4 linked regions of the Homo sapiens genome follow. The protein of the gene in region 1 interacts with the protein of each later gene in a pairwise test. Each region holds a gene or a part of one and is shown in the gene's direction. Other genes may lie near its edges.

What was found.
Region 2: the proteins of MAST2 (region 1) and STK36 interact in a two-hybrid assay, tested with the Homo sapiens proteins (one study listed by BioGRID and IntAct).
Region 3: the proteins of MAST2 (region 1) and CDHR2 interact in binary tests that used the Homo sapiens proteins (3 or more experiments, as listed by UniProt).
Region 4: the proteins of MAST2 (region 1) and SLC9A3 interact in a two-hybrid assay, tested with the Homo sapiens proteins (one study listed by IntAct).

Annotation. Positions count from the first base shown.
Region 1 is NC_000001.11:46,016,591-46,023,612, forward strand, and holds part of MAST2 (microtubule-associated serine/threonine-protein kinase 2), read left to right. Parts: intron 1-3,005; coding exon 3,006-3,107; intron 3,108-5,359; coding exon 5,360-5,492; intron 5,493-6,319; coding exon 6,320-6,381; intron 6,382-6,642; coding exon 6,643-6,728; intron 6,729-7,022. UniProt on the Homo sapiens protein: Appears to link the dystrophin/utrophin network with microtubule filaments via the syntrophins. Phosphorylation of DMD or UTRN may modulate their affinities for associated proteins. Functions in a multi-protein complex in spermatid maturation.
Region 2 is NC_000002.12:218,696,082-218,703,103, forward strand, and holds the end of STK36 (serine/threonine-protein kinase 36), read left to right. Parts: intron 1-445; coding exon 446-520; coding exon of another isoform or gene 521-553; exon of another isoform or gene 554-916; intron 917-957; coding exon 958-1,132; intron 1,133-1,381; coding exon 1,382-1,529; intron 1,530-1,772; coding exon 1,773-1,920; intron 1,921-2,520; coding exon 2,521-3,267; intron 3,268-5,784; coding exon 5,785-5,928; 3' UTR 5,929-6,634; downstream 6,635-7,022.
Region 3 is NC_000005.10:176,544,681-176,552,360, forward strand, and holds the start of CDHR2 (cadherin-related family member 2 precursor), read left to right. Parts: upstream 1-4,661; 5' UTR 4,662-4,734; intron 4,735-7,680. UniProt on the Homo sapiens protein: Intermicrovillar adhesion molecule that forms, via its extracellular domain, calcium-dependent heterophilic complexes with CDHR5 on adjacent microvilli. Thereby, controls the packing of microvilli at the apical membrane of epithelial cells.
Region 4 is NC_000005.10:514,446-521,467, reverse strand, and holds part of SLC9A3 (sodium/hydrogen exchanger 3 isoform 1 precursor), read left to right. Parts: intron 1-7,022. UniProt on the Homo sapiens protein: Plasma membrane Na(+)/H(+) antiporter. Exchanges intracellular H(+) ions for extracellular Na(+) in 1:1 stoichiometry, playing a key role in salt and fluid absorption and pH homeostasis.

The DNA of each region.
Region 1 (7,022 bases):
AATAAAATACCTAGGAATCCAACTTACAAGGGACGTGAAGGACCTCTTCAAGGAGAACTACAAACCACTGCTCAGTGAAATAGGATACAAACAAATGGAAGAGCATTCCATGCTCATGGGTAGGAAGAATCAATATCGTGAAAATGGCCATACTGCCCAAGGTAATTTTTATAGATTCAACACCATCCCCATCAAGCTACCAATGACTTTCTTCACAGAATTAGAAAAAACTACTTTAAAGTTCATATGGAACCAAAAAAGAGCCCGCATCGCCAAGTCAATCCTAAGCCAAAAGAACAAAGCTGGAGGCATCATGCTACCTGACTTCAAACTATACTACAAGGCTACAGTAACCAAAACAGCATGGTACTGGTACCAAAACAGAGATATAGATCAATGGAACAGAACAGAGCCCTCAGAAATAACGCTGCATATCTACAACTATCTGATCTTTGACAAACCTGAGAAAAATAAGCAATGGGGAAAGGATTCCCTATTTAATAAATGGTGCTGAGAAAACTGGCTAGCCATATGTAGAAAGCTGAAATTGGATCCCTTCCGTACACCTTATATAAAAATTAATTCAAGATGGATTAAAGACTTAAACGTTAGACCTAAAACCATAAAAACCCTAGAAGAAAACCTAGGCATTACCATTCAGGACATAGGCTTGGGCAAGGACTTCATGTCTAAAGCACCAAAAGCAATGGCAACAAAAGCCAAAATTGACAAATGGGATCTAATTAAACGAAAGAGCTGCTGCACAGCAAAAGAAACTACCATCAGAGGGAACAGGCAACCTACAAAATGGGAGAAAATTTTCGCAACCTACTCATCTGACAAAGGGCTAATATCCAGAATCTACAATGAACTCAAATTTACAAGAAAAAAACAACCCCATCAAAAAGTGGGCGAAGGACATGAGCAGACACTTCTCAAAAGAAGACATTTATGCAGCCAAAAAACACATGAAAAAATGCTCACCATCACTGGCCATCAGAGAAATGCAAATCAAAACCACAATGAGATACCATCTCACACCAGTTAGAATGGCAATCATTAAAAAGTCAGGAAACAACAGGTGCTGGAGAGGATGTGGAGAAATAGGAACACTTTTATACTGTTGGTGGGACTGTAAACTAGTTCAACCATTGTGGAAGTCAGTGGGGCGATTCCTCAGGGATCTAGAACTAGAAATACCATTTGACCCAGCCATCCCATTACTGGGTATATACCCAAAGGACTATAAATCATGCTGCTATAAAGACACATGCACACGTATGTTTATTGCGGCACTATTCACAATAGCATTTACTGTTTTTCTTTCCTTGTATCCTATTTACTACTCAATCTTCTGCCTTCCAGTTTCCCTTCCCACCAGTCTACCAAAACTGTTCAGGCAAAATTCACCAAGGAACTCACTGGCCAATTGCCAAATCCTGTGGCCACTTTCAGTTCCCATCTTCTGCCACCTCTCGGTGGAGCACAGTGAATACTTCCTAAACTTCCTTCCCCAGTTGTCAATTCACTGTTCTCACCACTCTTGCTGCCTCTTCACAAGTTCCTTTGCTGCCCACCTCTTCCTACTGGTGTGTCACAGGGCACCATCCGGCATGCCTGGTCTCCCCTTTCTCTTTCCTCCACTCTCTCTCTGATGTCTTGCCACCTGCTCCCATGTCTTCAGTTGTCATCTCTACGCTGAGGACTCCCACATGTGGCTGCCACTCTTACTGTTCTCCTGAGCTTCAGATCAGTGCACCCAGCTGCCTGCTGGACTCCTCCACTTTGACTTCCCTATATTGGTTCTTATTCTTTGGTTGCACGTAATAGAAACTGATTCAGAATAGTTTAAACAGTAAAGGGAAACATTATAAGAGTAAAAGGAGTAGGTCTTAGAGAATTGAAGCGAGGGATATAACCAGGCCTTAAGAAGGAACCAGAACTAGAAACCAGAAGCTCCAGGAAGCTCAGGAAGTCTTCATTCTTCCTTTTTCTGTATGCATCTTTTCCTCTATTTCCATGGTAGGTATGCATCTCTTTTCACAGTTCTTAAACGGTTCTGCCACACTGACGTTAACAGTTGTCTTTCTATCCTTTTTTAAATTCCTAGGAAAGTGATCCTCTCTGGTCAGCTATTAGAGGTGGGAGGGAAGGTACAGACACACAGTACAAATGTGGCTCCTAGAAACCAGAGCAGTTCTCAGGAAAAAAGAGAAAGGCCCATCGGCCAAGCAGATACCCAAGAGACTCTCATATAGGTGCCTGAAACTGCACGCCCAGAACTGAGCTTATCTTTTCTGCCTAGCTGTTCTTTCTCTAAAACCAAATGCAGTACATTCTTTACCTATCACCTAAATGGCTTCTTATAGTTACTATTTCACTTATTCATTGTAATTTTCCTAAAATTGAAGTTGTAGTTGCCTTCTGTCGTGCTTCTTTCACCCCTTATCTGCTTCTGTAGTAACCCACGTCTATCCCCTTGTCTGCATTCTTCTGCCTTGACCTATGCCTTTTTCATCTGAATTATTAGAGTTGCCTGCTAATGGGTTTTCCTGCATTTAGCCTTGCCCTCTTTAGTGTACTCTCTACACTGCAGCCAGAGTGATCCTTCTGAAGTACTTTCTGGTCATATGACTCCTCAGCTTTGAGGTCTTTCTACTCCTTACAGTCTAGGGTGGAAAGTGAACATCAGTGAAGGCACCATTGAGAGCTGCCCCTTGAGCTAGGGTCTGGAGGGTAAGTGAGGCTTGTTGGATGGAGGAGCAGGTACAGCTGTATGTCTGTGTGGCATTTCTTGGTGTCATGTAGTGTTCTAAAGCAGAAATGGTTCCCTATGAGCAACTCGCTCCCTCTCACAGCCAGCCAGCCTTCTCTGAGTTCCTTGCTTTGCGGAGCTCTCTATGCTACCGAATTGTTTCTCCCTGGAGTCAGCTCTGCCCTGTCTGGTCCTGCTTAGCCCAGCCACACTGGGCCAATAGATTAAGCAACGCTTCTTTTCTCTATAGGCTCATGAGCGCTCAGAGAGCTCAGAAGTGGCTTTTGTGATGCAGCTGGTGAAAAAGCTGATGATTATCATTGCCCGCCCAGCACGTCTCCTGGAATGCCTGGTGAGTGGACTCTAGGAAAGTCAGGTGGGCAGATTTAGAGGAGGACTATAGAGGAAGTATCCTGATGACAGCAAAACTGTGGTGGTAACCACTGCCATTTCTGTTGCTTAGGTCCTTATTTAAATATGATTTGCCACCATTGGGGGACTAAACAGGTTTTTGTGAGGACAAATGTATGGTCCTGAGGGGATGCGGCAGGGAGAATTATTAGTCTAGGCCACCCCCACATGAGCAGGGCTCACATCAGTGGGGGTCTTGGGGGTGAGAAGCGTCAGGAGCATAGCCCAGTTTAGTTTGTACAAGTTGAGTCCTTCATTTTATCTTCAGCAATACTTGACTGAGTACCTACTTCCTGCTAGACACTGGAGATACAGACATGAATAAAGCACAGTCTCTGATCTTGGGATGTTTCCTCTACAGTGGAGTTGGGAAGCATGAGGCATGAGGACATGTAAATAGTAATTACAATACTGCAAGAAGTGTTGCAGTTGAGGTCAGTACACAGCGTAACGGGAACCTGGAAAAGGAAGTGCTTTAGTCTTCCCTGGAAGGAACATTCAGTGAATGCTCCCTGGGGGACGTGAGGCTTATTCAGCAAACTGAAGGATGAGTCTAAGTTTCCCAGATCGGGAGCATGGGAAGGAGCATTCAGTGGGGCACAGGGTGGGTTTGAAGAAGTGCTGAGGGGTAAGCCTGGAAGGTAGGCTGTGACAGGGTCATGGAGGGTGTCGGGTTCTCGGCTCTGGAGTTTTTCATTACCCTTACGGCCACTTGGAGACACCAGAAAGTTTAGGTAAGAATGTGACATGGCCGCATTTACTTTTTTCTTAAAAAATATTATTAAGGTATAATTTTCATACAATAAAATATATCCCTTTGATGGTACAGTTCATTGAGATTTAACAAATACACACTTGTAGAATCGTGGCCACAGCTGACATAGAGAATATTTCTGTCATATAAGTTCCCTTGTGCCCCTTTGAAGTCAGTCCTCTCTTCCTCCTGCTCCCAGACAATAACTTAACTGCTTTGTTTCACTAGGGATGGGTTTGCCTTTTGTACAGTTTCCTAGAAATGAAACCATGTTTCTGTGTGGTTTCTGTAGTATGTTCTGAATTCTTTCACTCAGCATGTTTGTAGAAATTCATACATGTTGTTGCATGTATCAGTAATTGGTTCCTATTTATTTCTGTGTAAATATTACATCAGATTTAGTCCTAAGAAAGATTACTTTGGCTGCAACATGGATAGTGAATTGGAAGAGAGGGCAGGATGAGCCAGGGACATCAGGGGAGAGGTACTCAAAGCAAATTCATGTGAGATGGGGTGGCCAGAACTCAGACAGTGAATGGTAGGATAATAGAGAGAAAGAGGTGGATTAGAGGGGTATTTATGAGAGAGACATTCTGACCAAATAGGAGCTAAGGAAGGATAAGAAGTTAAAAGGACTTCCAGGTCTGGCGTAGGTTATATCCAGATAGGTACAGTTCTCCAAAACAGTGAGGCCACAGGGAATGAGAACAGAGTTCAGGGCAGAGGCTATGCTGTGATAGAGCAGAGAGCCTCTCCCTCAGGAACATGAAGTCCTTGGCTAAGCAGGGGCTTGGAGTCAGACCTGGGCTGAATGCTGGTTTTCTGTTCCTTCCTACTACTGTGATTATGGACAAATCAGTGCATCCCTGAAAGCCTTGATTTCCTCAGTGAGGTCAAAGAGTTGCTAGAGGGTTTAACCCAGTGTGTGGCACTTAGTAGGCACTCAGTTATTATGTGCAGACAAGGATTGTGCTTTTCAATGGATTTCCAGCCTCTAGCACATAGGAGGTGCCCAGTAAATATTTGAAGGTATACATGCACCAGTAGGGCTTTGCCAAAGCTCTTGTGAGCCATAATTGAGTGTGTGCCAGGACAGCTGTGGACTGGGCATCTGAATACACCAGACAGTGCCACCTGGCTGATGGAAAGCATGGGACCAGATCAATAGGCTGAGCTCTCTTTAGAGTAAAACCTCTAGTTCTTACTGCCAGGAAGACAGCATATGCTTAGCATGTCCAATCTGGAGGTGACCTGTAAGACATCTTTGTCCCCATTCCTGTGATCCCTGAATCATGTTGTTTCTGAATATTCAGGGGTGGGAGTGTCCTATCACAGAGAAAGTCTTGTTCATCTCAGTCTACTATATGCTGTAAAACCAAAGATGCCAGCAGCTTTCGCTTATATCTGTCACCACTGACTATCTCTCTCCCTTGGTACAGGAGTTTGACCCTGAAGAGTTCTACCACCTTTTAGAAGCAGCTGAGGGCCACGCCAAAGAGGGACAAGGGATTAAATGTGACATTCCCCGCTACATCGTTAGCCAGCTGGGCCTCACCCGGGATCCCCTAGAAGGTGAGCATGCTGCCTAGTGGCTGCAAAGAGGCCCCACTGCTGCTGGCAAGCTCTAACAGCAGGGAAGCTGCTTGGAAAAGAGACTTAGCTTGGACATGGACACAACATGGCCCCGGGGGCCTCAGGATTTTAGGAGATACCCTGTGATCTCTGTGACAAAACAGTCTTTACTTTGGAACTGCTGTTCACATCTGCCTGATAGATCCCAACCTGGATTGCATTGGCCCGGCTGAGTTGCATTTAGAACCTCAGTTCCAAAGAGGTCAACAACAAAGGGCCACAATCACATTTGCAAAAATGGTCACCTCCTCTGCAACTTGCCTCTACTCTTGGCCACCTTACAGGTCTTCCTGTGTCTTTGGGGTAGTCCAACACAGGGCTTCAGAGGATACTGCCATTCTTCTGGGCTTCCTGCTGAACCCCTGCAGCAACCATGGGCTTCCAAGTCCCTGGTCTGTAGGTATCCTGCTCCTGCCTTCTGTGCTTCCCAGCCCCATCCAGTGAAGCAGTCTTGGCCAGCAGGATGGGAACTAGTAACCCAGTTTCAGGCCCTGTTTTCCAGGAAATGTCCCCAGTTTATAGAATTTGCCAGGCCCTGTGAATGGCAATGGACTTCTGGAAATGGGAGTAGCAGTAGGATTTGGCTTGTTTCCTGATCCAAAAGCTGGGACTACATTGGGTATAGTGCCATGGGACTGAATTCACATCCTAGGCTGATGCAAAAAGCATTAATGACTACCCTACATGCACCTGTTGTGTGATCTGAGGATACTGCTGAGATACCTGACATTGCCACGCACATTCTTCTCTTGTATCTTTGTTTCCAGAAATGGCCCAGTTGAGCAGCTGTGACAGTCCTGACACTCCAGAGACAGATGATTCTATTGAGGTAAAAACCCTGAGCTCCTACCCCATTCCTGGAGCCTGGGCCCTATGAAGCAAAGAGCTATGAATTCTCTTTAAGAGAATATCTGAGGAAGGGATGGGGGAGTTGGTGACAGCAAACACTGAGAAGTCATTCTACTCCCAGAAGAATGAGCAGGAGACTGCACTAGAGCTGACAGCTGAGAAGATGCTAGAGCCACAGCTTCTGCAAGGATATGGGCTCTGAGAAGCATGCCTGTCTCCTGCCTTTTCCCTTGTCTTCCAGGGCCATGGGGCATCTCTGCCATCTAAAAAGACACCCTCTGAAGAGGACTTCGAGACCATTAAGCTCATCAGCAATGGCGCCTATGGGTAAAGGCAGGGGTCAGGGTGTGGCCAGGACTGAAGCCGGGTCAGCCTTTGATCTCTTCCATGTGAGAGTGTATGCTGCCCAGTCCTCTGGGCAGATGCCTCGGGGTGGACCTTCTCACTCCCAGAAGCCTCCTGGGTGGGCAGGAGTTCAGATTCCTCTGACATCCGATCATTGTTCCTTTCCCAGACAAGATTCCCACGCCTCTTACTACCACGCATCCTCCATTCCCTGAGCTCTGGGGAAGCATTGAGCCGTGTCATCAGGACATGGTCTATCAAGAAGTTTAAGAGTTC
Region 2 (7,022 bases), on another chromosome or scaffold:
TGGAACTCCTGACTTCCTGATCCCCCCGCCTCAGCCTCCCAAAGTGCTGGGATTACAGGCGTGAGCTACCTCAGTGGCTGAATTCTTTATAATTTATAAAACATTTTCACATGTTATCCCACAACACACTTGAAATATAGACACACCAATGTAATAATACTCATCTGCTTTTTCTAGACTAAGTTAGCCTTCAGAGAGGTTGTATCACTAGTGATAGCACTAACACTCATCCAGAAGTCTAAGTCAGAACTTTGGGAGTCATCAGTGACTGTTCTCTCTTCCCCATTATTCCCCCACCGAAATGGTTCCCCCAGGCCCCATATATTCTACCTTCCGGTTGACTCTCAAATCTGTTCCCTCCATGGCACCATCACTGACCTGCCTTGGTTTAACGGACACCCCATTCCTCTTAGGCACCTGCATTCTTCATGTTTCTCTCTGACAGGTTCGGTTGACTCCACCAGGTAGTTGTGGATTCTATGATGGCCTCCTTATCCTTCTGTTGCAGCTCCTCACTGAGGTACAGATGGATCTTGGGATGGATGGGAAGTAAAGAGAGAGGAACTGGGCATTTTGGGGAGCCTCTGGACCAGAGGAATGAAGAAGCAACCCACAGCCTTCCCTCTCAAGCTACTGTGCCTGTGATAGCCTTGGAACTTCCCCGCCTGCCCTCAGTACTGACCCTTTGAAGGAAACCATTCGCTGCGTCCCCTGGGATCCAGTGGGAGATAAAATGAATTCCCTGGGTTTCAGCAGACATACACATGAGTTGTGAGGTCAGAGGGTTAAGGTTTGATAAGAAAATGAAATAAGACGACAGGGAAATACTAGGTGGGAAAGCGGAAGGAATTATTTCTGGGACTTCCTTTACTTGTAAGTCAGGGACAGGAATGAATAAAAGCATTTGGATTCCTGACTTCTGTCTTTCCCCCCGCCCTCTTTCACTTTTATCTCTAGCAGGGGAAGGCTAGCCTAATCAGGGATATGTCCAGTTCAGAAATGTGGACCGTTTTGTGGCACCGCTTCTCCATGGTCCTGAGGCTCCCCGAGGAGGCATCTGCACAGGAAGGGGAGCTTTCGCTATCCAGTCCACCAAGCCCTGAGCCAGACTGGACACTGATTTCTCCCCAGGGTATCTTTCTATCAGTATCCTTTTTGGGAGTGCATTGATCTCTCTTCAAGAGGAGGCAGCCCAGAACTGGGTTAACCCACAGAGGTTTATTTTTTTTGCTTTTGCCTGGGGACAGGAAGCAGTGTCTGCACTAGAGCTGCTCTAAGATGGGGAAGGGACTGAATAGGTGTAGCCCTGGGAGCTGTGGGGAAGCAGGGGTATCTGGGCGTCTTGCCTGTTCCATTGGGTCTCCATTTTTGGTGTTACCAGGCATGGCAGCCCTGCTGAGCCTGGCCATGGCCACCTTTACCCAGGAGCCCCAGTTATGCCTGAGCTGCCTGTCCCAGCATGGAAGTATCCTCATGTCCATCCTGAAGCATCTGCTTTGCCCCAGCTTCCTGAATCAACTGCGCCAGGCGTGAGTTTGAGCTAGAAGAGAGCCACAGAGTCAGCAACGGGGAGGGAGAAAGAAGAAGGCAGGAAAGAAGTTACTGACAGATTGAGCTATAAAGCAAGAAAGATGAGATCAGGTTTAGGCTGGAAACCTAAGTAGTGGCTGAGACTGTAGAAGGGGAGTTGGGCAAAGGAATTGGAGGAGGGAGGGAGGAATGATAAAGGTTAAGTGAACAAGACCAAGTCTCTTCGACATTCCTCTCCTTAGGCCTCATGGGTCTGAGTTTCTCCCTGTCGTGGTGCTCTCTGTCTGCCAGCTCCTTTGCTTCCCCTTTGCGCTGGACATGGATGCTGACCTCCTTATAGGTGTCTTGGCCGACCTCAGGGACTCAGAAGTTGCAGCCCATCTGCTGCAGGTACTTGGGCAGCTAGCATGAAGGTGGGAGAGGAAGATAGCCAACCTTGTATCCTCTAATTTACTTCCCAGCAGCTCCAGGGCTCTTCTAGGCCCCTGTAAGCATGGAACAGCTGGCTTGACTCAAAAGTTGGCGTGGAGACAGTACTCAGACCTGCGCATGTGGTGGAGGCATGTGGTGGGAGCTGGGTTGGTGCCTCCTCCTCTCCATCAGTCCATCACCTGGTTCTGTTGGTGCTCATTGGGGAGAACATCCTAGTCTAGGCACTGAAGACTCACCTCCTTGGCCAGGAATCATGTTTCTGGCAATTCTTGGCATTGCACAGTGGGTCTTTGTTCTTTTGTTGTTTCTTTTTGTTTTTTCACAGTGGGTCTTTGAAGGCAGAGACTGAGCCCTTGCAAAGTAAGGAATGATCTTGGAAAGAACCTGCTCTCTCAGGCTCCACGTTGTGTCTCATGTGGAGTGCTGTGGGGCAGGACTTCCAGCTCTCTGTGGCATTTCTCACCATAGCTTGGCTTTTCTCTCTCCCAGGTTTTGGGCTTCTTTATAGCTGCATATACTCTCTCTCTCCCTGAATCCTTTTACCTCCTGTTCTCTCAGGTCTGCTGCTACCATCTTCCGTTGATGCAAGTGGAGCTGCCCATCAGCCTTCTCACACGCCTGGCCCTCATGGATCCCACCTCTCTCAACCAGTTTGTGAACACAGTGTCTGCCTCCCCTAGAACCATCGTCTCGTTTCTCTCAGTTGCCCTCCTGAGTGACCAGCCACTGTTGACCTCCGACCTTCTCTCTCTGCTGGCCCATACTGCCAGGGTCCTGTCTCCCAGCCACTTGTCCTTTATCCAAGAGCTTCTGGCTGGCTCTGATGAATCCTATCGGCCCCTGCGCAGCCTCCTGGGCCACCCAGAGAATTCTGTGCGGGCACACACTTATAGGCTCCTGGGACACTTGCTCCAACACAGCATGGCCCTGCGTGGGGCACTGCAGAGCCAGTCTGGACTGCTCAGCCTTCTGCTGCTTGGGCTTGGAGACAAGGATCCTGTTGTGCGGTGCAGTGCCAGCTTTGCTGTGGGCAATGCAGCCTACCAGGCTGGTCCTCTGGGACCTGCCCTGGCAGCTGCAGTGCCCAGTATGACCCAGCTGCTTGGAGATCCTCAGGCTGGTATCCGGCGCAATGTTGCATCAGCTCTGGGCAACTTGGGACCTGAAGGTTTGGGAGAGGAGCTGTTACAGTGCGAAGTACCCCAGCGGCTCCTAGAAATGGCATGTGGAGACCCCCAGCCAAATGTGAAGGAGGCTGCCCTCATTGCCCTCCGGAGCCTGCAACAGGAGCCTGGCATCCATCAGGTATACCCTACAGCACTTATGAACCATGATGATCAGGGCCCCTATAGTTGACAACATTTCTCTGAGATCATCTGTAAGGAATTGGAATCGGGACATGGAGAAACTTATGCCGTGTTTCTCCCAGGGACAGTGTCTTGGAGTGAGTTTTCTAGTTACATCTCCTGCCTTGGAGGAGGGAAGGGAGCTAGAAGAGGGCTCCAATGGGCTGGGAAATGTCTGAGATCTCAAGGACCACAGTTGATCTCTTCTAGAGGCTGTGCAGGAGGGAGATGAGGGAAGACTAAGAGATGCTGAGATAGAGTAGTTTTACTCTGTGTGCCATGAAGGTGCTGACTATTTTTTTTTTAGACTTACCATGAGAAAAGCACGATGCTAAGCATTTTACCTTTATTATCTGGTTTAAACTATTATTATCCTAATTTTGCAGATGAGGAAACTGAGGCACAAATAATTTAATAACTTGTCCAAATTACAAGGACAGTATGTAGGATTGGGCTTTTGAACTCAGAAGTCTGAGTCCAGAGCCCGTACTCTTAACCACTACTTTATCCTTCCTCTTCTGCGCAACTTTCTTTTTCCTTTTTTTTTTTTCTGAGACAGAGTTTCACTCGTACTGCCCAGGCCGGAGTGCATGGCATGATCTCGGCTCACCACAACTTCTGCCTCCCGGGTTCAAGCAGTTCTCCTGCCTTAGCCTCCCGAGTAGCTGCATTATAGGCATGTGCCACCACGCCTGGCTAATTTTGTATTTTTAGTAGAGACAGGTTTCTCCATGTTGGTCAGGCTGGTCTCGAACTCCCAACCTCAGGTGATCCACCTGCCTTGGCCTCCCAGAGTGCTGGGATTATAGGCGTGAGCCACTCTTTTTTTTTTTGAGACTGAATATCACTCGTTGCCCAGGCCAGAATACAGTGGCGCAATCTCAGCTCACTGTAACCTCTGCCTCCAGGTTCAGCCAATTCTTGTGCCTCAGCCTCCTGAGTAGCCGGGACTATAGGTGCCTGTCACCATGCCCGGCTAATCTTTGTATTTTTATTATTTATTTATTTATTTATTTACTTATTTATTTTTAAGATGGAGTCTCGCTCTGTTGCCCAGGCTGGAGTACAATGGCACAATGTTGGCTCACTGCAACCTCTGCCTCCCAGGTTCAAGTGATTCTCCTGTCTCAGCCTCCCAAGTAGCTGGGATTACAGGCACACACCACCTTACCTGGCTAATTTTGCATTTTTAGTGGAGACAAGGTTTCACCATGTTGGCCAGGCTGGTCTTGAACTCCTGACCTCAAGTGATCCACCCGCCTCAGCCTCCCAAAGTGTTGGGAATACAGGTGTGAGCCACCCTGCCTGACCGCGATTTTCAGTATATAAAGAGTCCAGTAGGCCAGGCTCTGTGGCTCTTGCCTGTAATCCCAGCACTTTGGGAGACTGAGGTGGGCGGATCACTTGAGGTCAGGAGTTTGAGACCAGCCTGGCCAACATAGTGAAACCCTGTCTCTACTAAAAATACAAAAATTAGCTGGGTGTGGTGGCAGGCGCCTGTAATCCCAGCTTCTCGGGAGGCTAAGGCAAGAGAATCCCTTGAACCTGGGAGGAGGAGGTTGCAGTGAGCGGAGATCATGCCTCTGCATTCCAGCCTGGGTGACATAGCGAGACTCTGTCTCAAAAAAAAAAAAAAGCCCATTGGAAATCACAGATATCTACATATGGTAATATAAATTATGACATCTCAAAGTGGTAGCATTGGGAAGTTCATGCAGAGCAGAAATTTGAGAGGATGGTGAAGATCTTTTTTTTTTTTTTGAGACGGAGTCTCACTTTGTCGCCCCCAGGCTGGAGTGCAGTGGCGCGATCTTGGCTCACTGCAAGCTCTGCCTCCCGGGTTCACGCCATTCTGCCTCAGCCTCCCGAGTAGCTGGGACTACAGGCACCTGCCGCCACACCCAGCTAATTTTTTGTATTTTTTTTTTTTTTAGTAGAGACGGGGTTTCACCGTGATAGCCAGGATGGTCTCGATGTCCTGACCTCGTGACCCGCCCGCCTTGGCCTCCCAAAGTACGGGATTACAGGCATGAGCCACCTTGCCTGGCCGATGGTGAAGATCCTATAGGAATCTTGTGCAATCCATGGGGAAAATAATTAATGGGATTCTTGGTGGTAATGAGGTTAGAACTCACTGGTCTGCATTGAAGGCTAGGAATTAGACCTTTTGGCTTACTGTGAGTTACTGCTGCATTCATCAAGTCTTCCTGGGGACAAGTATATGTGTCCCTTAGTGCCTTGGTTTCATGGTCTATAACCAAAGAGAATGGAAGTAGACTTCTGGTCCTGATGATTCCTATCTCCAAGGTTTCTCTTCTGCCATTCAGTCTATTCCAAGTCCCCAAGAGCCCATTTCCTTTTTCTTCCTCTTCTCGAGTGGGAATTCCTGGGTAAATGAGAGTCCTCCGCACCTGCCCCAGACACCACCATTTCTGAGCCTCATGTTCTGTTCTATCATCTGTTCTCTATCCTACAGGTACTGGTGTCCCTGGGTGCCAGTGAGAAACTATCCTTGCTCTCTCTGGGGAATCAGTCACTGCCACACAGCAGTCCTAGGCCTGCCTCTGCCAAACACTGCAGGAAACTCATTCACCTCCTGAGGCCAGCCCATAGCATGTGATTCCAGATTCCTGCGGTCCAGCCTCCAACTTTGGTTGCCAGCTCTTTCTTATTCTACTACACAAGCCGCCAACTCAACTGAGAGCTAAAGAGACTAGAAAAGAGATAAGCTGCCAACTCAACTGAGAACAAGAAACTAGAAGAGATTTATATATAAAGCTTCTTCCTTCTCCCAGATGCAGGATGTTTTCAACCAGTAAATTTTATTGCTGTTGGTGCCAGAGAAGAGTCCTTTCTTCTCTACATCCAGGGGCCTTTTCTCCAATAATGTGCCTTTAACTCTAGGGACCTGCCTCACGGACCTTAGGGAAAAACCTCAACCTGAAAGATCTCTTCCTTTCTGGAGCTCCTTTAATCTTCCCAGCAGGTTTTTGCCTTAGACGTGCTGGCCCCAGGACAGTGATGAAGACAGAGCCTGTCTCAGCTCTAGGCTGTGGGGATCAATGCCATCAGTCCCTGTTATTGAGGGATTATCCCTTAGCCAACATTCCTATCTGTGGGTGGGCGTGGAGAGTGTATCTTTTTTTGGGGTGTGTGTGTATATGTGTGTGTGTATGTGTGTGTGTGTTTAATAGTTCTGTTTGTAAACTCTTTTAATAAAAGTTGTGCCTCACCATACTTGAAGCTCCCAGGACAAGGGTTGAGAGGCTCAACCCCTCTTTCAGCTTCTATGTGGTGTTGGAGGTGCTGGTATCGTGTTCACACAAGATCCTGGTCTGGCAGCTTATTTATATCATTTCTTGCCTTTACCAATTTCCCCCTTCCTAGATGAACTATATTTGGTTACCTACTTTCAAGTCAAGGCCGGTGGAGCTGAAATAGGAAAGGGTAAGATTCAACAGAGCGGTCAATTAGGTTGCTCAGACTTAGTGACTAATTTTAATATTTAGTGGAGTTCTAATGTGTAGGGACTCCAAGCTGCTGTAGAAGGATAGCTATTTTAAAGATTGTACAATTTACCAGAAAGGGCTTTTAGTCAGACCTGTTAGAATTATAATCTAACTGGAAGCATTGGAAAACCTTAACTCATTGGATGGCTTAGAACAAGCTTCCAGGGCCTTGATTTCTCCATCCATAAAATGAGGAGACTCCTTT
Region 3 (7,680 bases), on another chromosome or scaffold:
GCCCGCCTCGGCCTCCCAAAGTGCTGGGATTACAGGCGTGAGCTACCGCGCCCAGCCCCGAGTTCTTTCTAGGGTGGGAGGCTGTGAGTCTGTGACATCACGGGGATATTCTTGGGCTGGTTCCTTGTCTGTAAGAGCAACGAAGGGACTTTGTACCCTGCAAAGTGCAACTTCCGGGGATGATTGGGAAGTTGAGGGGTTGAATGCATTCACACCAGAGTCACTCTCAGCCCAGACTCTCCGGGTCACCTCTAAGGCTGTGCACTAGGTGGGCGTCAGAGGTATTACAGGTAAAGAAATGGCGGCTCAGAGGGAAGGAGAGACTTGCCTAACTTCAGGGCAAGCTAACGCTTGATTTCAACTTGATAAATTTCTGAGTATGCAGTGGGTGCACATAGCAGAGACAGGTAATGAGAAGTTTTCTTTTTTCCTTTTCTTTTTTTGTGGGGGGTGGGGACAGAGTCTCACTCTGTCACCCAGGCAGGAGTGTAGTGGTGCAATCTCGGCTCACTGCAATCTCCCCCCACCCCACCTCCAGGTTCAAGCGATTCTTGTGCCTCAGCCTCCTGAGCAGCTGGCACTACAGGTGCACGCCACCACGCTGGGCTAAGTTTTGTATTTTTAGTAGAGATGGGGTTTCACCATGTTCTACGTTTCACCATGTTGGCCAGGCTGGTCTTGGACTCCTGGCCTGAAGTGATCTGCCTGCCTCAGTGTCCCAAAAGTGTTGGGATTACAGGCGTGAGCCACCGCACTCGGCCGAGAAGTTTTTCTGATTAAAAAAAATTTTAAGGCACACACTTCAGACAGTGGCTGTGAAGGAACCCTGATGTGTATCTAAACTGTCGCCTCGTGCACATCACCCCATTACTTACTCTGTGCTAAGTGCTGTCATGCATTACATCATTACTCCTTAGAACAGGCCTATGAGGTGGAGTCTGCATTAGGCCCATTTTGGACAAGGACACCAATAGTGTGGGAGGTGGTGTACCTTGCCCAAGCCCCCAGCAGGTAAGTGGTGGTGGGGATTAGGACCCAGGTCACTTGAGTCCATATCCTGGGCTCTTAGTCCCACTCTGCCTGGCTGCCTGCTGCTCCGTGAAGCCAACCCTGGACCTAGACCTGGACCTGGATCGTCATAGCCCAGATCCCTGTGTGCTTCCCAGGCTGCCTTGTGGCAGGTGGATGGTGCCCCTCGAGATGGGCAGGGCACCATCTGGCCACACGTGCCTCATCGTGATGGGTCCAAAGGTCTGGGCAGGCCAGGACACACCTCTGTCAACCAGAGCAGTGACTCAGAGCTGTCGGCCTCAGCCGTAAGGGCAGGGAGAGGGGGCAGGGGCTTGGGTTGGGGTCTGCCCTATTTGGGGCACAGCAGAGCGACCAGGCTGACTCCCATGGTCTGAGGCAGAGCGGGGAGCCTGGAGCCTTGGGTGGGGTCACCTGCCTCTCTTCTTACTGGTTAAGCCACCAGCGATGACTAGTGCCTACTTCCTTCAGAGAGGAATCTGACGGCTGTGGCAGGAAAGTCAGGGGCAAGAATTGTTGCACAGATATGCTAATATCTCAGTTCTGCCACTTTCTGTAATCTCGGGTGGTGATCTAATCTGTCTAAGGTCTATTTTCCCATCTGTAATGGGGAAAAAAATCATCCCTGGAGTTATTGGCAGGATTAAATGAGGTGATATTAGTAATGCAATAGTCACCACCATGCCCCCACGAAAACTAACATTCATTGAGACCTTATTGTGTTGGGCATTGTGCTCAGGACTTCAAATGGGTGACTTCATTACATCCTCACCATCACCTGCCCAGGTAGGCATCATGTATTACCTGCAACTTACAGATAAGGAAACCGTCTTAGAGAGGTTATGCAACTTGCCCTGCCAAAATTGAACCCATTGTGAATATACAGTAGATAAAAAAAATAATAAAAATAAAATGAAATTAAAAATTGTGGCTGGGCAGGGCGGCTCACACCTGTAATCCTAGTACTTTGGGAGGCCGACACGGGTGGGTCACCTGAGGTCAGGAGTTTGAAACCAGCCTGGCCAACATGGTGCTCAAAAAAAAAAAAAAAAAAAAAAAAAAATTGAACCCAGCAGTCTGACCCCAGAGGAGCCTGGTCTCTGGTCTCTTAACCCCTGCATTGTAATAGTCGCATCGAGCGCTACCCAGTGTCTGCAGCATCCTTTCCTCAGAAACACTTCTCAAAAAGAGGAAAAGCCTCTTGGGTATCAAAACTCAGAACTGCATCATAGCTCCCAGAGCCTGGCTATACGCAAAGTGGTCTTTTTGGTCTTTTTTTTTTTTTTTGAGATGGAGTCTTGCTCTGTCACCCAGGCTAGAGTGCAGTGGGACAATCTTGGCTCACTGCAACCTCTGCCTCCCGGGTTCAAGTGAATCTCCTGCCTCAGCCTCCTGAGTAGCTGAGATTACAGGCACCTGCCACCGTGCACAGCTATTTTTTGTATTTTTAGCAGAGACAGGGTTTTACCATTTTGGCCAGGCTGGTCTCGAATTCTTGACCTGGTGATCCACCCGCCTCAGCCTCCCAAAGTGCTGGGATTACAGGCGCGAGCCACCAGCCTATGCAAATGTTTTAAAATGGATGGATGCTGGACTCAATGGATCTCAATTCCCTTTTTTCTTTGCCTGGGGGGAAGCTCAGAACCTGATTCATGACCCATCTCTACAATTACCCAGAACTTGAAGGCAAATATATATATATATATAATTTGTTTATTTTTTGAGAGAGAAGCTCTTGTTGTCTAGGCTGGAGTGCAGTAGCTATTCATAGGCACAGTCTCACTACTGATCAGCACCTGAAGTTTGACCTGCTCTGTTTCTGACCTGGGCTGGTTCAGCCTTTCTGAGGCAACCTAGTGGTCCTCTGCTCCTTGGGGTTCACCATATTAGTGCTGAATTTAGTGTGGACACCCCATCAGCATAGTGCCCTACAGCACAGAAATCCTGGCCTCAAGCCATCCTACTGCTGCAGCCTCCCAAGTAGCTGGGACTACAGGTGCACAGCAGTGCCCCCAGCTCAAGACAAGTATTTTATGGCCTCAATTCAGGCGTAGATTACCCTTATTTTTCTCACTTGACTTCCCTTCATCTGGGTTTCTTCTTTTTATGCTGGTGGCGTATAAATTTTGTTACTATGTTTTACATTTGGAGAGTTGGGAAGCAAACTATTAAAATGCCTGACTATAGCAACTGCCTGATATACAGTCAACACAACCCTTAACAACGGGGACACCTTCTGGGAAATGTGTCATCAGGCAATTTCGTCATTGTGTGAACATCACACAGTGACTTACACAAACCTAGGCGGTACCACCTACTACACACCCAGTCTCTATACCACCGCCTGTGCTCCTGGGCTGCTAACCTATGCAGCCTGGGACTGTACCGCACGCTGCAGGCAACTGTAACACAGGGGTAAGTATTTGTGCATGTAAACACAGAAAGGGTGCCATGAAAGATGATATTATACTCTTATGGGACCGCTATTATATGTGTGGTTCGTTGTTGACCAAAACACAGATATATGGTGCATGACTATATATCTATTGTGAATTAGACATGTCCTCTGCCCACAAGAAGAGGGCCACCCAATGGTGACGACTCAGTGGTGTGCCTTAAGAAAGTTGTGCCCAGGGTCCCCTTTCTGTGTCAACTGTGATGGCTGGGCCAAAGTGAGGATAAGAAGGACTTGTGGCTGAGCCCCTTCGGGAGGCCACCACATCGGGCAGCGCTTAAAGCCAGCCTGGGGGCCGAGCTCCGTGGCTCATCCCTGTAATCCCAGCATTTTGGAAGGCCGAGGCAGGCGGATCGCCTGAGGTTAGGAGTTCGAGACCAGCCTGGCCAACATGGTGAAACCCTGTTTCTACTAAAAATACAAAAAAAATTAGCCGGGTGTGGAGGCCCACGCCTGTAATCCCAGTTACTCGAGAGGCTGAGGTAGGAGAATTGCTTGAACCCAGGAAGCAGAGATTGCAGTGAGCCAAGATTGTGCCACTTCACTCCAGCCTGGGTGACAGAGCAAGACTCTGACTCAAAAATAAATAAATAATTAAAAAAAAAAGGCAACTTGGGAGTGGATGAAGCCCCTGGGGACGGGCAGATGCCTTTTGAGGGTCTCAATGCGGGGTGAGATCAGTGTCAACAGGCTCGAAAGTGGGTTGTCCAGGCTCAGCTAGCCCCCAGTCCTCCACGAGAACCTCACAGGGGCTGGTCTGGCCACACAGTGTTTGATTGTTACACTGTTTTACCACTTCCCTCTCCTGACTCAATCCCCCACTTGTCCACAGATCCCCTGTCACTGAAGACTCGTAGCAGGGAGGGGACGGGGGCTCTGGCATCACCTTCTGACTGTCACCGTCCCCGCCTCCAGCCTGCCCCAGTGTTGGGCCTTGTTCCCAGGTCCTCTGGGCTCAGGGTCGGCCAGGCCCCTTCTCCTGTGGTGTGGGCCTCCAGCCCCAGGAGCGCCAGGAGCTCTGGCGCCTTGGTCCCTTCCTCCTGTCCGGCGCCCCCAGCTGTACTCTGCCTCATTAGGAGTCGACCCCTCCTGGGAGGTGTGGTCTCTGGCAGGGTTAATGATTGCTCAGTGGAGGTGGAGATGGTGCCAAAGTCTGCTGGCCACATAGCTGCAGGCCGCAGAGGGTGCCCACCTGTGTGCCAGCGCCTGTCCGGCGCCTGCCTGCCGCCTCCGTGGCGAAGGGGACACAGGTAGGGACTATCCAGCTCATCGGGGGTCTCTGGGCCAGAGAAATGTGGGGGTTGGGGGGATCCCTAGAGCCAAGGCAAGCTTGGGGGTCTTTAAAAGTCTCCCCTGAAGCTGGGCAGGGGAAGTCACACGCTAGATGGGGCAGAGCCGGGTCAGGTCCCAGCCTGCTGTGAGGCCTGTTTCTTTGGTAAACATGGGATAATAATACCTCCTTCCCTGGGGGCTGATGGCCCCCTTCCCATCCAAGTCCTCAAGGGATGATTCTTCAGAGGATGGAAGGGAGGCAGGCACCCCAGGGAAACGAGGTAACTGGCCTGACCCCTTCATAGGATGCTCAGGGGTTGAGGACGGGGAAGCTGACCTGGGCTCTTACCCCAGCTGCTCGGTTCACATCCCAGCTCCACCCTGACCTTGGTGGGCTACTTAACTCTTCTGGGCCTCCGTTTCCTCATTTATCAAATGGGGATGAGAAGAGTTCCAGAAAGGGCCTGAAAAGCCCTGAGGCAAAGGTGAGCATGTGGCCTATGACCGAGCCCAGTGCCACCTCAGCCAGTGCTAGGAAGTGTCAGGCAGGGACTGACCCAGGCTGGCCCCAGCTCTGCCCAGTCCGGGCCTTGCACATCTCTCTGCCCTGGTAGAGGAGGTGGTGACCCAGCTGAGAGTCGGGGCCATGCTGCGTCACTCAGGCAGGCCTGTGCTGGGTTGGGCACCAGGCACAAGGCAGGGTCCCAGTGAGCACCGAGGTCCGGCAGATGGAAACAAGTCATGGCCCGTGTGTAGACCCCTTGATTTTTATCCTCACTCTGCTTCTCAGCAGGGGAAACTGAGGCCTGGAGAGGGGAGAGGGCTTGCCTGGGGTTGCACAACAAATATGTGAAATGCTGCCATCTGAACCCAGGGCTGTTTGAGTCTGTATGTGTCTGCTGGGCCAGGTGGCCTGGGCCATAGGCACTGGGAGGGCCCGTGGCGGGGAGCTGCGTGCTCAGGTCCCACATCCTTGCTCCGGGCACCCAGGCTCGGCTGGAGTCCGCTCTGTGGGTGCAGGCACGGCCTCCTGGATCAACGGAGCCCAGACCAAGGCTTGCCCAGGGACCCCTGGATTTGGAGGCAGCCTGGGTCTAACCTGCTGCCCCTGGCTCACCCATCTCTGGGCATCTATGAGCCTCGGTTTCCTTGGAATAATAGGATAGGATAATTCCTGCTTGGGAACAGCTGTGAGAAGTAAATGAAAAAGCAGAAGTGAAAGTGCATGGCGAGCTGGCCGTGTAGCGGTGGCGGTGCTGGGGGAGCTCTGTAGCATCGTGGCTGAGTGCACCCCGGGGGCTCCCCACACTGAAGGAGGACCCACCTCCCCACCCTGACCCTCCTGGAGGTCCTGGGCAGTCCGGGTATCCTCACTCCCAGTGGTTCCAAATTCTAGAAAATCTTGGCACCGTGGACTGCTCTGAGATGCGGCTGAAGCCTCCTCTCAGCCAAGGCTGAAGAGCTGGCACCTCCTGGGCCAGGTGGGACCAGTGAGGATTCCTGGAGACTACACATCTCATGGCGTGGGGGCCAGAGTCTCCCTGATTCTTCTCTGTGTCCTTTTTGGTCCTTCCCTAAGCACTTTCTTTTTGAGACGGATTCTCACTCTGTTGCCCAGGCTGGAGTGCAAGGCGCTATCTCGGCTCACTGCAACCTGTGCCTCCCTGGTTCAAACGATTCTCCTGCCTCAGCCTCCTGACTAGCTAGGATTACAGGTGCACGCCACCACGTCTGGCTAATTTTTTTTTGTGAGATGGAGTCTTGCTTGTCGCCCAGGCTCCAGTGCAGTGGTGCGATCTCAGTTCACCACAACCTCTGCCTCCTTGGTTCAAGTGATTCTCCTGCCTCAGCCTCCCGAATAGCTGGGATTACAGGTGTGCGCCACCATGCCTGGCTAATTTTTGTATTTTTAGTAGAGACAGGGTTTCACCATGTTGGTCAGGCTGGTCCAGGCATTTTTTGAGAGCAGGGAAACAACAGTAGTGGCCGGAGGGCTTGAGAACAAGGAAGCAGTAATTTCTGGAATATAGATAGTCCCCATTTTAAATTACTTTATTTTATTTTTATTTTTTGAGACAAGGTCTTGCTCTGTCGCCCAGGCTGGCGTGCAGTGGCGCGATCTCGGCTCACTGCAGCCTCAACCTTCTGGGCTCAAGTGATCCTCCCACTCTAGCCTCCCAAAGTGCTGGACTGTGTTTGCTCCTTTAAAAAATGAGAACTATTGGTATTGGCCTGGACTGCCACCACACCTAGCCAAGAGTTCTCTTTTTTTTTTTTTTTTTTGAGACAGAGTCTCGCTCTGTCACCCAAGCTGGAGTGCAGTAGCGGCATCTCGGCTCACTGCAAGCTCCGCTTCCCGGGTTCACGCCATTCTCCTGCCTCAGCCTTCCAAGTAGCTGGGACTACAGGCGCCCGCCACCACGCCTGGCTAATATTTTTTTTTTTTTTGGGGAACTTTTAGTAGAGACGGCGTTTCACCATGTTAGCCAGGATGGTCTCGATCTCCTGACCCCGACCCCGTAATCGGCCCGCCAAAGTGCTGGGATTACAGGCGTGAGTCACCGCGCCCGGTTAATAGTTCCCATTTTTAAAAGGAGCAAACAGAGAAAAGAGCCCAGGGGTACGGTTGTGCAGTGACTGGGACCTTGTTTCACACCCATGCGTTGGCCTGAGGCTGCCCCAGCAGGGAAAAGCGGGTGCCTGTCCGCAAGTCCCAGCCCAGGGGCAACTCCATTCACTCGGTTTCCATTTGTGCCTTGCTCCTGCCCCTTGCTGGGGTACCAGGAAATGAGGAGCCCAGAGTGGGGGCCACCAACTGCCTGAACACAGCTCCACAGCTGATCTGGGCCTTACAGAATGGAGAGGATTTGCATGTAGGCAGAAGGCAAAGAAAGACATTCTGGGCAGAGGGAATGGTTTAGGCA
Region 4 (7,022 bases), on another chromosome or scaffold:
CTTCTTCAAGCCATTTGTAACCTGGTTGGGGAAATAAGAGTCCGGGTACCCTGAAACCCACAGCAATGTTGATCCCAGGAGATTTCTACTCCAGGCAGCTTGGGACAGAGGATGGCCAGAGGGCCAGAGCTGCCTCAAGCAAACACTGGGGCTGGGGCCTCAGCAGGTGGCCCAGGAGCCTGGGCAAGGAACAGGTGCTGCTGTTGGCCCACCAGCCTCAGGCCGCGTGTCTGGCTCCGGCAAGGGCTCCCCACAAGCCCCCTATTTGTGTGCACTGGGGTTCCCCTGCCTTTTACAGCATCTTTTTAAAATGCAGAAGGGGAGGCAAGGGCCGAGGCCACGGAGCCACTCCACAGCGCAGACCTCCCAGACTGAGAGGACGAGGAAGTCTTTAGCAGTGGAGGCGGCAGGGCCTAGTGTCTGCCTCAGGCAGGGTGAGGGGGCTTCCTCCTGTGCCCCTTGGGGGCCCCCAGCCTGCAGCCACCCGCACCAGGGCCACTCTAGGCCTTAGGTGCCCACCAGAATCCCCGCCTCACCCTGCACCGTCCGTGTTGGGAACCCTGGGCCAGGCTTTCCTTCCTTCCTGGGCTTCCTCTGGGGGCTGAGGCTGTGCCTTGCAGAGACTGCCAGGCCTGGCAGCACTGGGTGGGGGCCCTGGGGTGGGATCCAGGCAGTGGCAGGTGTCAGGACTGCAAGCAATGGGCCCCTGGAAGGAGAGGGAGGCGGGGGTGTCAGAAGCCAGAGGAGGAGGCCTAGGGTGGGTCCCTGGGGAGGCAGAGGGAGGCCCGAGCAACTCAGCTACAGGCCTTGGAGGACTTTGGTCCCCACCTAGCGTCGTGGTGAGGAGTGGATGTGGTCAGATCTGAGTTCTCAGACGACTGCCTGGCCATGGGGCAGAGAATGGCACCGGGGAGATTCCGGGAGGATGGTGGGGAGCTTCCCTTGGGCATCAGGGCGGTGGACAGCAGGGCCTCCTTGAAGCAGGAGTGGGGATGTCACAGGGTCATCAGTGACACAGCAGGGGCCAGACCTCCTGGCCCCATCCTGTTCTCAACCCTTCGGGGGGCTCTGCTGCGCTGACCTCGCCCTGCAGCTCTGAGCCACACATGAGCGACAGGACCCGACCAAAAGGGAACTGGGGGAGTTACAATTTTGAGATGTCGGAAACCGGGGAGGGGCTGGGGCCGGGAGTGGATTCTAGGCCCAGCTGGGTCTATTTGTCCCCAGGCGTCTGGCCGTGGGTACCCCTTGGGTCGTGGACGCACAGGAGGTGTGGGAGCTGACATCCCATGGGGCCTGAACTCCAGAGCTGGGCAGCGCTGGCTCAGGGAGGTGGCGCCTTGAGGGTTAGGACCTGAGCAGCGGCAGTGACTGCCCACGGGGAAACCAGGACAGTGGGGCTGGGTGGGGGCGGTGGGGGCAGGCTCTCGAAGTGGAGCTTGTGTTGCTGAGGGATGTGATGGCGGAGGCCCAGGCCGCCCCACATCTTGGTGAACCCTGGCTGGAAGGGCAGGCAGGAGCGAGACGGGTATCTGGAGTCTGCAGTGCCTCGCGCAGCCGTAGGAGGGTCAGGAGGACGCTAGGGCACAGGGTCAGGAGTGCAGCCCCCTGCTCTGAGCGGCGCAGCCCCCCCACCCCCCTCTGAGCGGCGTTACCCCCACTGTGGGAGTGTGGGAATGCTTTTCTGCAGGAGCTTCAGCCTTGGGGTTCCAGCACCTCCTCCTTAACTGGACAGGGTCAAGACCCAGATCCCTGAGCGCCAGGTTCCCTGCTCCCGGCCCCAAATCTGAGGCACTGGGTGCTTCCTTGTTGTCTGGGTGGGTGCAGGAGGTCGTCCTCACCCGACACTTGACTCCCGGACCCCCGCTGTCTTACCCAGCGTGTCCCAGGGAGCCTCCGCCACTGGGGGTGTGACACTGCCTAGACCACCTGCCTAAGCTGTGGATTTCTCCCAGGTGCAGCCTTCCACCGGGCACTCAGTGCCCAGGCTGTGAGGGCAGCTGTGGGTCACCTTCACCTCCTGGGGTGAATGGTTTTATTGCATGTGCTCTGGTCCTGGAGGCAGGAATCCCTCAATGCGCACAGCACCTACCCCTTCACCATATCTGCTACCCACTCCAGCTGAACTGCCCTTAGGTTCTCCTTGAAGAAGCATAGGAAAGGAGGTTCTGGGGACAAGGATGGCCTAGAAGGCCAGGGTGGTCAGCAAAGTCCCCAGGGGACCCAGTCCTCCCAGGAGAGGACCAGTGAGTGGGCCCTGTGGACCCCAGTCCTGGCAGGAGAGGTATGCTCAGTGGGTTTGGAGTCAGGAGCCATCACGGGAGGCCTGGAAGCAAAGACTCTCCCAGGAGTCTCCACAGGGGAGGGTCTGGCCCTGAAGGGGTGAAGTTTCATTTTCCAGGAGCTGCCCACGGAGAATCAGCTGTAGGCTATAAAACAATCCATGGCGTTTGGAGCTAAGGTGTCGCCCGGGAGAATCCTGAGGAAAGGGGCAAAGGTTGGGAAGTGCTGATAGCATCGGGGCAGGGAAGGAACCACCAGGGCTCCCTGTGGGTACCTGGCAGCTCCGCCAGAGGCTGAGAGAGAGACAGGGATGGTGAGTCACTCTTGGCCGCCAGCCCCCCCAGCCCACTCCCTGCCACCCCAGGAGCTCCCCGCCTCTGGGCGTGTGTGGCGCTCCCTGTGACCACACAGGCTTGTTAAGATGCCTGTCTGGGCCCAAGCTCCAGCACCCAACCAGCCTCATGTCTACTGCAGAAATGGCTGAGCTCTCCCAGCGTGGCCACCCCCACTGCCGGCTTCTCCAGGAGCCAGGGGCTGCACTGGGGCATGTTTAGAGTTGGGGTTCCCATCCTGCACATCATCTGCCCAGCGTCTGGGCTGAGTCCCACAACCAGGAGTCTCAGTGCACGATGAAGCCACCAAGGCTTTCCTCACCCACCCTTGAGACAAGAGTCTCAGGATACCAGGTGTCAGGGTGCCAGGTGTTGGCGTGCCAGGTTTCTGGGTACCAGGTGTTGGGGTACCAGGTCTCAGGGTGCCAGGTCTCAGGATGCCAGATCTCCAAGTGCCAGGCCTCAGGGTGCCCGGTCGCGAAGTGCCATATCTCAGGGTGCTAGATCTCAGGGTATCAGGTCTCAGGGTGCCAGGTCTCAGGGTACCAGGTCCTGGGATGCCAGACTCCACCCTCCCCCAAATCATGCACTCACCCCAGCTTCATCCCTTCACACTCAGCATCTCTCCTGCTCCACCTTTCCTGAGCTCGGAGCCTTCCTCCTCTGAGCTCCTGAGGACACCTCCTCCTCCAAGGTCTTTTGGCTCAACCAGGTTGATGCCACAATGGCAGAGGTTGTCTGTCTTATTCCTCCTGTGTCCCCAGTGCCTGTCCCCAGCAGAGTCCTGCAGATCTGAGCACGTGAATGGACATGTGGATGGATGGATGGATGAGTGAATAGATAGATGGATGGATGCGTGGATTGATGAATGGATGAATGGATGAGTAAATGGATGGAAGGGTGGATGAGCGAATGGATGAATGGAGTGAATGGATGGATGGATGGATGATGGGTGGATGGATGGATAAGTGGATGGATGGATGGATGAGTGAATGGTCAGATGGGTGGATGAGTGGATGGATGGATGGATGGATGGATGGTTTGGATGGATGGATGGTTTCGGTGAATGGACGAGTGGATGGATGGGTGGATGGATGGATGGATGGGTGAATGGATGGATGGGTGGATGGCTGGATGGCTTGGGTGAATGGATGGATGGGTGGATGGATGGATGGATGGATAGATGGATGAATGAATGGATATATGAATGAGTGAATGGATAGATGGATGAGTGGATTGATAGATGGGTGAGTGAGTGGATGGATGGATAGGTGGATGGGTGAATGGATGGATGGGTGAATGGATGGATGAGTGGATTGATGGATGGATGAGTGAATGGATAGCTGGATGGATGAGTGGACTGATGGATGGATGAGTGGATGGATAGATGGCTTGGATGAATGGATGAGTGAATAGTTGGATGGGTGGATTGATGGATGGATGGATGAATGAATGGATATATGGATAAGTGAATGGATGGATGGATGAGTGGATTGATGGATGGGTGGGTGAGTGAACTCATGGATGGATGAGTGAATGAATGGATATATGGATGAGTGGATAGGTGGATGAGTGAATGGATGGATGAATGAGTGAGTGAGTGAATGGACAGATGGATGGATGGCTGATGCGTGAATGGTTGGTGGATGGATGAGTGGATTGATGGATGGATGAGTGAGTGGATGGGTGAATGGATGAGTAAATGGAGGGATGGGCGGAAGGATGGGTAGATATGTGGATGGATGGATGGATGGATGAGTGGATGGATGGATGCACCCACAGGTGGGTGAAGGAGGAATGAACGAATGAGTGGATGGACAAATGGATGGATGAATGCACACATGGGAGAGTGAAGGAGTGGAGGGATAAACATTGGCTTCCCATGTGTAAGCTTCATCCAAAACCATCTGGACACTGGGCCCAGGAAGAGGCTGTCTCAGCTCCTCGGCTGAATTATTTCCTTAAATTACTGCAGAGCCTCCAGTGAGCAGCACACCTACTTCTGGATGACAATGGCTTTAGAGGCGCCGCCTGCCAAGGAGTGGCAGACTTAACCTGCAAAGTGGGATCATTGACAAGCAATTGCAGCATCGGCTCAGAGCACTTTGGCAGATCTGGGCTCAGCATGGTGAGCACCATCTGCCCCACACAGAGCTCTCTCAGGAGTGGGTCATGTGCCCAGAGAGAAACCACGCTCACCTGGCCTAAAACATGCTCCACTGTCAGCTGAAATCTTAGCTATGCCTTAGCTATATGCCTTCTGGAATAAGACAGACAAACCCAGCCCCATCCTGATGTTGCCAGACCTCGGAAGATGCAGACACACCCTGGGCAGGCCCTGACTTGGTGCTGGAACTGCCCAACCTGGCACCCTCCTGGGACACAGAATAGAACTCGGGTCACAGGCAGCCAATACCCTTAGCATACCAACCACTTTTAGGAGCTTGAATGGTCTCATCCGTCTTATCGAGGTAGCCCAAAATGCTGGACTTTGCAGCAGCCAGCGCTCTGGGCAATGGAGGAGCTCTCTCCAGTTTAATATTCATTCAATAAACATTCAGTGCCCATCACGCCCTGTAGGCAGTGGGGATCCCACTTCAAATGAGACCCAAATATCCCATGGGGCAGCACTCCTGGGCACCAAGGACCAAAGACAGTCAGGAAGCCATCCCTGGGGCAGAGGGGGCAGCCAGCCCTGTGGGTTAGGGGGAAGCATGTCCAGGGAAGGGATAGCCAGAGCGAAGTGCCCGAGGCAAAAAGTGTGGATGAGGGTTAGGGGGAGAGTGTGTGTGTGTGTGAGGGGCAGGGGGAGTGTGTGTGTGTGAGGGGGCAGGGGGAGTGTGTGTGTGTGAGGGGCAGGGGGAGTGTGTGTGTGTGAGGGGCAGGGGGAGTGTGTGTGTGTGTGTGAGGGGCAGGGGGAGTGTGTGTGTGTGAGGGGCAGGGGGAGAGTGTGTGTGTGTGAGGGGCAGGGGGAGAGTGTGTGTGTGTGAGGGGCAGGGGGAGTGTGTGTGTGTGAGGGGCAGGGGGAGTGTGTGTGTGTGTGAGGGGCAGGGGGAGTGTGTGTGTGTGAGGGGCAGGGGGAGTGTGTGTGTGTGTGAGGGGCAGGGGGAGTGTGTGGGTGTGTGAGTGGCAGGGGTTGTGCATGGGTTTGTGAGTGGCAGGCGGTAATGTGTGGGTGTTTCAGGAGCAGCGGGATGTGTGTGTGTGTCTGAGGAGCAGGGGACCCTGTGGAGGATAAGCAGGAGCAGCAGGTGGTCCTTGCACTCTGGCCGTGTGATGACCATGTTCAGCTCTGGGTTGCTCCCTCACATTGGCGAGTGCCCTTACAAGCCTGAGCTCTGGGCTCCCTGTTCTATCCGACTGCCAGCCTTCCCTTGGGGCTGGCTGTGTGTCAAGTCCATTTCCAAAGTGTCGTGTCGTCAGTCTAGGAAGAATTGAGATGGAGCCTGGGGCCGTGTCCAGGTGGAGTCAGGAGAGCAGCCAGGGTGCCCAAGGGGTTCCCGTGTGTGCACCGTCCACAGGGGCCTGAAAGGAAGGAGGGAGGGGCGGGCAGAGCAGGAGGGGCTGTGGGAATTCCACAAATGGGGAGCGGCACATCCTGGGAATGGGCCTGGCCGTTTGTGCTGCTGTGCTGGGGGTGGTTAGGGCTGTGACAGAGACTCCAGGCTGATGGCATGGACTCTGGGGTGGGAGACCGAGAAATCTCCCCATGGACTCTGGGGTGAGGAGTGGGGGGCCGAGAAATCTCCCCATGTCTCCCCATGGAAGGCTCTGCCTTAGGGAAAGACCAGGTGACCTGTGCCAAGCTCCTGGTCCCTGGAGGGCGGCCTTTGAGTGCATCCCCGAGGGCTTTGTGCTGGACCATCCCAGCCGGGACCCCCTATCTGGCTCTGGGAGCCAGCCCTGGGGAGGGACAGAGCCAGGGTCCCCTTCTGGACTGTGCAGGGCTAGGGCAGAGGGAAGGAGCGGGAGCCAGGGACGCACTGGCAGCTTCCTCCTTTCTGGTGGATCGGGGAACCTGCAGGCTCACCGCCTGCTGAGCTGTCATGCCAAAGTCCAAGGGTTTGAGTTCTTTGTTGGGAAAGGGTTTCTTTAAGCCTGAATGGGAAAGTTGAAAATGCCTGTTTTTAAGAGCTTTGGGGGTGACACAAAGTGTGGAAGAACAGCAGCTACTGCGGGCTCCGTCCTCAGATTCAGCCCCAGATGTTTGGTGCAGAGGACACGGGGCTGACCAGACGGTGAAGGCAGATTCCCCTTAGAACCCGGCCCTCATGGGGCCCTCAGCGGGCCGTACCACTCCTTCCCCACCTACTGGATGTGGGAGCCACTGGGCAGGACTGCCTGAGGGGCCACAGTGAGCAAAGCCCCCGACAGGCAAGACCCGATGGGCCTCGGGGGGCAGGGTGG